2 separate regions of the Homo sapiens genome follow, and region 2 is linked to region 1. The links come from fine-mapping of genetic effects on gene expression. A gene starts in region 1. The other region holds a variant in brackets. All regions are shown on one strand. Distances are between the middles of the regions.

What was found.
Region 2: its variant is fine-mapped to the expression of RNASE13 in thyroid (GTEx, PIP above 0.99).

What each region holds. Positions count from the first base shown.
Region 1 is chr14:21,032,923-21,037,176 of GRCh38, reverse strand. RNASE13 (ribonuclease A family member 13 (inactive)) reads left to right here and starts at 2,370. Exons shown (of 2, transcript NM_001012264.4): 1 at 2,370-2,521; 2 at 2,881-4,254. The coding sequence starts at 2,889. The coding sequence ends at 3,359. It also overlaps a transcript of NDRG2 not described here and a transcript of TPPP2 not described here.
Region 2 is chr14:21,088,933-21,093,434 of GRCh38, reverse strand. It overlaps ARHGEF40 (Rho guanine nucleotide exchange factor 40), which reads right to left. Exons shown (of 24, transcript NM_018071.5): 24 at 3,187-4,421. ZNF219 (zinc finger protein 219) reads left to right here. Exons shown (of 5, transcript NM_016423.3): 3 at 145-1,570; 4 at 1,893-2,024; 5 at 2,295-3,358. The coding sequence ends at 2,899. Among named protein-coding and RNA genes, the nearest start is that of ZNF219, 7.5 kb to the left of the region's middle. RefSeq lists silencers at 211-505, 652-861 and enhancers at 1,466-2,310, 2,311-3,156. The variant C/T (reference allele first, on the strand shown) is at 2,283.

The DNA.
Region 1 (4,254 bases):
ATGTGCTGTTCAGTTTCTGTAATTGTGCGGCAGAAGTGAGTGGTGTTGGGTGGGGGGAGCGAAGAGCGGTGATGGGTGGCTGGGGAATGAAGGAAGAGGAAGAACAAAAGGTATAAAAAGTCCCTTTCTATTCTCAGGGAAGCTGCAGCCTTGAGGGACCAGGGAAGAGGTGGCATGATTCAAGGCAGGGACCACAATGTGGTTGGCTTCCTCAAAGCAAAGGCCTGAGTCAGCCAGGCTCAGGCGACACCCTGCATTGGCACCCGCTCAGTGTTGTCTTGTTGAGCAGCCTGAAGAATACAGATGAGCCACCTGCCCATGTGGGCTCTATCCTCACTTGCTTGACGGTGCCCACTTCCTTGGCGAGGTCTTCCCAGCAGAGGCTTTCTAAGTGGGACCTCTGGGTTGAGTCTTTCTATGAGCTAGCACCATGGAATAGATGGGGGCGAGGAACGGTGCAGCAGCAGGGTTCCAGGTAGAGGAGACAGCAGCAGATAGGGCATAGAGGAGGTGGGGGACAAGGTGGGAAGCAGGCAGGGATGCAGATGCAGTTGTACACATGGGCAGGTGCAAGATCATGGGAAGTCTTATGTCCTGTGAGATGTAGTTTGGACTATACCCTACGACAAGCTTGTCCAACCCATGGCCCGCGGGTCACATGTGGCCCAGGATGGCTTTGAATGCAGCCCAACACAAATTCGTAAACTTTCTTAAAACATTATGAATTTTTTTGCATGTTTTAAGCTCATCAGCTATCGTTAGTGATAGTGTATTTTATGTGCGGCCCAAGACAATTCTTCTTCCAATGTGGCCCAGGGAAGCCAAAAGACTGGGCACCCCTACCCTATGAGAAACAAGCTATTGCAGACTTTTAGACGAAAGAAGGGATCACACTTTTTCTCTTGAAGTTGTATAAGAGATATATTTGAGTTGAGTCTTACTGGAGTTGGAGTGTGTGTGCTGTCCAGGCGAGACGAGAGCATCCACTGAGGAAGAAATAAGAATGGAAGAGATGGGCTTGGGAAAAGTTTAAGATTGTCAGGGCTGTGTGACTGATGGACTCAGGCTCATACTGAGGACTCACCATGTGCCGGGCACTGGTCTAAAAACTCTTGATATACATCTTAATGGATCCTCATACTGCCGTGAGGTAAAAAATACTATCCTCATGAACAGATGAAACAAGGAAGCTTTCAGTGGTTTCGTAAACAGATAGATGGTGTGCAGTTTGTAAGCTGCAGAGGCAGGATTCAATTCCTGGTCTGTTTCACTCAAAAGCCTTGATCTTAACCACCATGCAGGACCGCCTCCCCGTAGCTGGGATTGGGGAGGTGGAGGGGTCTAGGATCACTTTCAGGTTTCTTGCATAGGTAACCAGGGAAACTGAGTTGACAAAACAGGAAGAGAAACAAGTTATGGGGAGGATGGATTCCATTTTGGACTGTGGTTTGTGCTGTCAGAAAGTGCCAGTTTAGGGGGCTCTACATGAGGAACACCAATCTTTCTCTCTGCGGCCTTACTCCCTCCTCCTGAGCTATACTGAGGGTGTTGGAGCACTCAGCTTTCTGTGTTCTGACTCCCCTTTTCTGCTGCCCAGCAAAGGTAAAAAGGCTCTCCTAAGAGGAGGCCCCAAATCTGGAAGACACCTTGCAGACTAACAAGGCTGAGTGACCTGTGGAAGTCAAGGGCAAGAGCTAGCAGTTTCCAGGGAGCTGGCTCTTTGATTCTGATGAAAGGGAAGATGTTGATGAAAAAGATAGGAGCGTGGCCCTTTCCCCAGCATGGCAAACCACTCAGAGATCAACCAACAGTACGAAACGGATCATGCCAGGCTCTGGCATCCACAGCTTTTCATGTTCAGGTTATGCTTTCAAATCCAAACTGCCAAGTTTGAGGCTTCAGAGTCAGCATGCAGAGATTTCCAGTAGTGCTCAAACTCTGACAGGGCCTGAGGTCACAGGTGAAGGCTGTGGGTGTGACAGGAGTAAGGCTGATAGGGACCGTGGGGAGTCCACATGGAGGTCTTTGATTCTCAGCCCAGCACTTTGGTGGGAGGCCCCTGAGTACATGCCCTCCTGGGCTCCCGTGAGTGGGATGACAAAGTGGCGAATGCTCTGTTCTCTGAGGGTCAGGAATAAGAAGCACTTTGTTCCTCAGAAACATAACAGTGCTTTCCTACTCACCTTGCCACGAGAGCACAGGCTATGGAACAGAGAAAACATCAAAGAAAGCCCAGGCACTTAGGAACTTTTGGCAAGGAGATTGGAAGTAAGTGTTCCAATGACACTGTAGAGGAGGAGACCAGATAGTAATGCCTCTTTCCTCCCACCCATCCAACCCTCTTAGCACAGGGGCTCATCAAACTCGGGGACATTCCCTCCTCCCAGACTGATTTTTACCTAGAAACCTTTCTAGCCTCTCCTCATCTCTTGACTGTCTTGGCCTTGGCAAGAAGAATACACGTCCCTACCCAGCTATCTTCAGCTCCTGTCCTTCCTCCCAGCTGCCAGAGAATTGTCAGGTCAGCCTGCTCCTTCTTTCTTCTCTGCATTTTTTACTAGCAGGAGTGCCAGGGGCCCAAGGACTCTTGGGAAGAGTCTCTCACCCAAGGACCAGTTAGAGCTCTTATTCTGCAAATGTAGCTCACGGACTCTGCAGAGGCTGAGATTCTGTGGTGGACCAGGGGAGCAGGGCTGGCTGAAGGTGGCTGGTTGTCTGGGTGGCCTTGGGCAAGCATCTCCTCTTTCTGGGTCATGAGAACTTGGTTATGGGTGAGATGATCTCTAAAGTACTGTTGGGTTGGGAATGCTGGAGGCTCTGGGATGTGGCAGACAGCCACTTCAGGCCCACTGCTGCCCCCAACCACCTTAACTCTACCAGCAGGAGGAATGGCACCAGCTGTGACCCGGCTCCTTTTCCTCCAGCTTGTTCTGGGGCCAACTCTGGTCATGGACATCAAGATGCAGATTGGCAGCAGGAACTTCTATACCTTAAGCATTGACTATCCCAGGGTTAACTACCCAAAGGGTTTCCGGGGCTATTGTAATGGTCTGATGTCCTATATGCGAGGCAAGATGCAAAATTCAGATTGCCCAAAGATCCATTATGTGATACATGCCCCTTGGAAGGCCATCCAGAAGTTCTGCAAGTATAGTGACAGCTTCTGTGAGAATTACAATGAATACTGCACACTCACCCAGGATTCCCTCCCCATCACGGTCTGCTCCCTGAGCCACCAACAGCCACCCACTAGCTGCTACTACAATAGCACCCTAACCAACCAGAAGCTCTACCTACTCTGCTCCCGCAAGTATGAAGCTGATCCAATAGGTATCGCTGGTCTCTATTCGGGAATTTAATTCCTGAGCCACTCCCCAACCTCTACCACCACAGGCCAGCTGTCTCCATTTCCAACACTCTGATCCCTGTAACAAGACTTCCTTCCTGACTTACGAGGCAGGCAGGGTCCCCTCCCAAGAGACCAGGTGGGTGCGAAAATGTCCAGGGCTTTGATCACCATGCAAAGTGGTGCTATCTTCTAGGTTCTTTCCAGCTTGTTTACCCCCTCTTCGCCCCCACCTCCTCATCATCCTTCCTCTCCCAGAGACAGTAAAACCCACCCAAGAAGTTGACTGTGTCCAGTTGGCAGTGACTGTCCACCCACTGGGCCAGATCCTAAGTCCTGGATGGAGGCCCAGGGCCTCAGCTCACACCATGGCAACAGGCACCAGCTCCGAGTCTCACCTCCCCATCCCCACCAGCCTTCTCATGTCAGCCTCCCCCAGTTCCCTTATAATTCCCTCCACTCACCCACCTACTCAGGGGATATGGCTAGCTATAGGAACCTCCCTGAGGCCCTCAGACTCATGTTAGCCTCACTTCCCCACAACCCCCAGTTTCCAGCCTGCTTCTCTCTGTGAAATCATGGTTTCTCCCTTCATATAACTGTCCTCTCCTGCTTCCTCTTACCATGGAGCCTAGGACTGTCTCCCCCACACTCCCAACAACCGTAGTCACCCTGCCTTCCTTTTTCCAACCTCTTTTTCTTCCAGTCTTCTTACCTTGGCTCACTGGCATTTCAAGGTATCTTCTCTCACCCATTCCCCAGAGGTTCCTGCTTCCCTTCTCTTCCAGAAGCTCCTCCCAAATCCCCCAGACTCCAGAGTCTGCCCCTGACCAGGCAGCGAATGAGGCAGGCCCGGCTCTAATCGAACATAAATTTCTAAAACCACATCTGAGTATGTAAGATGTAAC
Region 2 (4,502 bases), 56 kb before region 1:
CCCGAGGTGAGTAGCACCCTGTGTTCCTAGTTCAGGCCCCAGCCCACCTTCCCTCGTGTTGTCCTTCTGGCCCTCGAGGCGACGCCCTTGCTTCCTTTACAGCTCTACCTTCACCCTTTGCTCTACGCAGATCTTTCTCCACAGGGCTCACGTCCCCGCGCCCCGAGCGGCCACTTAGCGCCGTCGCCGCCGGCTTTCGACGGCGAGCTGGATCTGCAGCGATACTCCAACGGGCCAGCCGTGAGCGCAGGGTCGCTCGGGATGGGAGCGGTGAGCTGGTCTGAGAGTCGTGCAGGCGAACGGCGCTTCCCCTGCCCTGTATGCGGGAAGCGCTTCCGCTTCAACTCTATCCTTGCTTTGCACCTGCGGGCGCACCCAGGAGCCCAGGCCTTCCAGTGCCCTCACTGCGGCCACCGCGCGGCGCAGCGGGCTCTGCTGCGCTCGCACCTGCGCACACACCAGCCCGAGCGCCCACGTAGTCCTGCTGCACGCCTGTTGCTGGAGTTGGAAGAGCGCGCGCTACTACGCGAGGCCCGACTGGGGAGAGCCCGAAGCTCAGGGGGCATGCAGGCCACCCCTGCCACTGAGGGTCTGGCGCGGCCCCAGGCTCCTTCATCGTCCGCCTTCCGTTGCCCCTACTGCAAAGGCAAGTTTCGCACCTCGGCGGAGCGCGAACGCCACCTGCACATCCTGCATAGGCCCTGGAAGTGCGGCCTGTGCAGTTTCGGCTCCAGCCAGGAGGAGGAGCTGCTGCACCACAGCCTGACGGCCCACGGGGCTCCCGAGCGTCCCCTGGCGGCCACCTCCGCTGCGCCTCCGCCTCAGCCTCAGCCTCAGCCTCCACCCCAGCCCGAACCCAGATCAGTCCCCCAGCCGGAGCCGGAGCCGGAGCCCGAACGTGAGGCAACCCCGACCCCAGCTCCTGCCGCTCCCGAGGAGCCCCCAGCGCCTCCGGAGTTCCGCTGCCAAGTGTGCGGCCAGAGCTTTACACAGTCTTGGTTTCTCAAGGGCCACATGCGTAAGCACAAGGCCTCCTTCGATCATGCGTGTCCGGTGTGCGGCCGCTGCTTCAAGGAGCCCTGGTTCCTTAAGAACCACATGAAGGTGCACGCCAGCAAGCTGGGCCCACTGCGTGCCCCGGGGCCTGCCTCCGGGCCTGCCCGCGCCCCCCAGCCTCCTGACCTCGGCCTGCTGGCCTATGAGCCGTTGGGCCCAGCGCTCCTCTTGGCCCCGGCTCCCACCCCGGCCGAGCGCCGTGAGCCCCCGAGCCTCTTGGGCTACCTGAGCCTGCGAGCTGGCGAGGGCCGGCCCAACGGCGAGGGTGCTGAGCCCGGTCCCGGCCGCAGCTTCGGAGGCTTCCGCCCGCTGTCCTCTGCTCTCCCGGCCCGGGCTCGCCGGCACCGTGCGGAGGAGCCTGAGGAAGAAGAGGAGGTGGTGGAGGCCGAGGAGGAAACCTGGGCCCGGGGCAGGTCGCTGGGCTCTCTGGCTTCCCTGCACCCGCGCCCGGGTGAGGGACCGGGGCACTCTGCCTCTGCTGCTGGGGCCCAGGCAAGATCGACCGCCACGCAGGGTATGTAGGTACCCTCCGCTCTCCGGGTACGCCGCGTCCTCCTCTGACTCTTACGCCGCCACTCCCTCGTAGCTTCCTTGTTAAAAGAACTTACGTTTAATTTCTCCTGAGTTTTTTTGTTTTGTTTTGTTTTGTTTTCCTGGAGGCTTTGCCATCATTTGAGAACACTTAACTCTTTAGTCACAACAAATCTAACCCCTCAGACTTTGTTTCCTCCTGGACCCCGAGGGGAAGCAGCCCTATGGGATGGGTGTGGGGTGGGTGCGCGGCACCTGGACAGGGTGTGGGCCCCCCTGACTTCCTCTTAACGTATGTGTTGCAGAAGAGAATGGGCTGTTGGTTGGAGGGACCCGGCCTGAAGGGGGCCGGGGCGCCACCGGCAAGGATTGTCCTTTCTGCGGAAAATCTTTCCGCTCAGCACATCACCTCAAAGTGCATCTGCGAGTGCACACAGGTGAGGGAGGCAGCCTCCGGCGTGGAGAGGGGACTGGGGGCGGGCAGAAAGGTGAGGGCTACCGAAACACTAGGAGGTGAAGTTTGTTCCGAAGCCTTCAGTTTGGCTGGATGAGATCACTTGGGAAACGCTCCTTTATTAAATCAAAGTGGGTGGGAGACGCAGTGCCCTTTCTTGGTTCTGAGAATGAGGTCTGTAAATTGGGCGAAATTCGGGTGGGTGCGTGCAGTCATCGTGACCCCGTGACCCTATCGCACC[C/T]ACTCTCCCCAGGCGAGCGGCCCTACAAGTGTCCGCACTGCGACTACGCGGGCACCCAGTCCGGCTCGCTCAAGTATCACCTACAGCGCCACCACCGGGAGCAGAGGAGCGGGGCCGGCCCCGGGCCACCCCCGGAGCCACCGCCTCCTTCCCAGCGGGGTTCGGCCCCGCAATCTGGAGCCAAGCCGTCTCCGCAGCCTGCGACCTGGGTGGAGGGCGCCTCAAGTCCCCGGCCTCCTTCTAGCGGTGCTGGGCCGGGGTCCCGTCGGAAGCCCGCCAGCCCTGGGAGGACCCTGCGCAACGGGCGAGGCGGTGAGGCCGAACCCCTGGACCTGTCCTTGCGGGCAGGGCCGGGAGGCGAGGCCGGGCCTGGGGGTGCCCTCCACCGCTGCCTCTTCTGCCCGTTCGCCACTGGAGCCCCAGAGCTCATGGCCTTGCACCTTCAAGTGCACCACAGCCGCCGGGCTAGGGGCCGCCGGCCACCCCAGGCTGACGCGTCCCCGCCCTATGCCCGAGTACCATCAGGAGAGACCCCTCCCAGTCCTTCGCAGGAAGGGGAGGAGGGCTCCGGGCTGTCCAGACCCGGAGAGGCAGGGCTGGGGGGGCAAGAACGGTAGTGGGCCCTCAGGGGCGATTAGCTTAGTGAGCTTACCCCGCCGGAGCGGGGGAGCGCTAGAGGTAGTTGGGTAGAGAAGCCAGCAGGGGGCAGCGTGGGACCCATATCCCAGCCCCAGGCGGACCAGAGGTGGAAGGCGCGGCGGGCGTAGGAGGGTGGGCTGGCGGTACCCACCCAGCCCAAGGGAGTCACAGTGCCTTAGAAGTGGCAGAGGTGAGGGTCAAAGAACGGGGTCCCTGGGCTGGCAGAGAAGGTTTGTGTCCCTGTTGAGGAGCCACTCTGCCAGTCTTTGCTGGTCCATAGGCGTGAGAGTTTATTTTTGTACAAGGGGTGAGGGTGGGGGGCACTGTACCCTTCTAGCCCCATCAGGGGCCCTGTAGACGTCGCTATTTTTGGTACGATTCCTGTCATCCCTATTGCAGAGTCGTGTCCCCAATAAACAGGTGTCTTGAGGCACAGGGCCCTGTGTCTGTCTGCCTACCTATGTCCTGCTTCCCTCTTTGGGTCCTTCTGTCAGGAAATAGTCACCTCTTCAGACACTTAGTTATCACCCAAAGAGTTTGATAAGAAATGCAGAATATTGGGTTTTACCCCCAGGTTTCGATGCAGTAGCTCTGATGGGGCCCAAGAATTAGCATTTAACAAACAGCCAAGCAAGTTCTCACGCACTGTGGCCTGAGGACCTCATTTTGAGAACTGCTGGACTGTGCTGGATCCCAGTTTGTCTGTGACCAGTTCAGCCTCAAGGAGTAGGTGCAGTGTGGGAGAAGGAGCTTCAGAGAGTGTGTGGAACCTCTGGGAGCCACTGTGGAGGAGACACATTCTCCCAGGCTCATACACAGTCAGCTAGCTCTGGGCCTGGGAGGGGTAGAGGGGACCTTCCAGTCTTGGTTTTATTTTCTGTGTTCTAGTTAAGGGCTGGTTGAGGGAAAGTGCTCAAGTTATTTATCACCTTAATCCAGAGGACTACTCTAGCTCCTTAGAGGCAAAGTGTGAGTAAATACATTTAATATAACAATAGTATTATAATAACAGTAATTACATATATAAAGTCTACGGTTCCCCTGTCACACCCTCCTATTGTTTGCATAGCTTCATTGCTTGTGACACCTCAGAATGGAGTCACCAGGGACTCCAGTTGACCTGGCAGAGATGATTCTTCTCAGGGAAAGTCAGGGGGTGAGAAAAGAGGAGAACATGGGCTGCCAGGGAGGGCTGGCATGGGAGTGATGTCCTGGATACAGTGGCCCAGGATGGGAAAGCACCGGAAGAGGGATAACTTCCCCACCTCCAGGGTATGAAGGCAAGCAATGTGGCTGCTCTGACTCCTGCAGGAGAAGGCACCAAGCTAGGGAGACTAGAGATAGTGGTGGCAGGGCAATACTCTGGTCGTTAGACCTCCTCTGTGTCCAGGAAGCAGAGGGAAGAAATTCAGCGATCGCCCAGGGCTCCATTATGCCCCACTGCCATCCCAGCCCAAAGTGTGCTGAGAGGAGAAGCTGCACGCAAGTTCTGGATCTTCTCTAGAAGCCAGGAGAGAAGAGGGAGATGAGTTGGGAGAGGGAAGAAGCTGACTCCCAAGTAGCCGGGGACAGGAAGGAAGG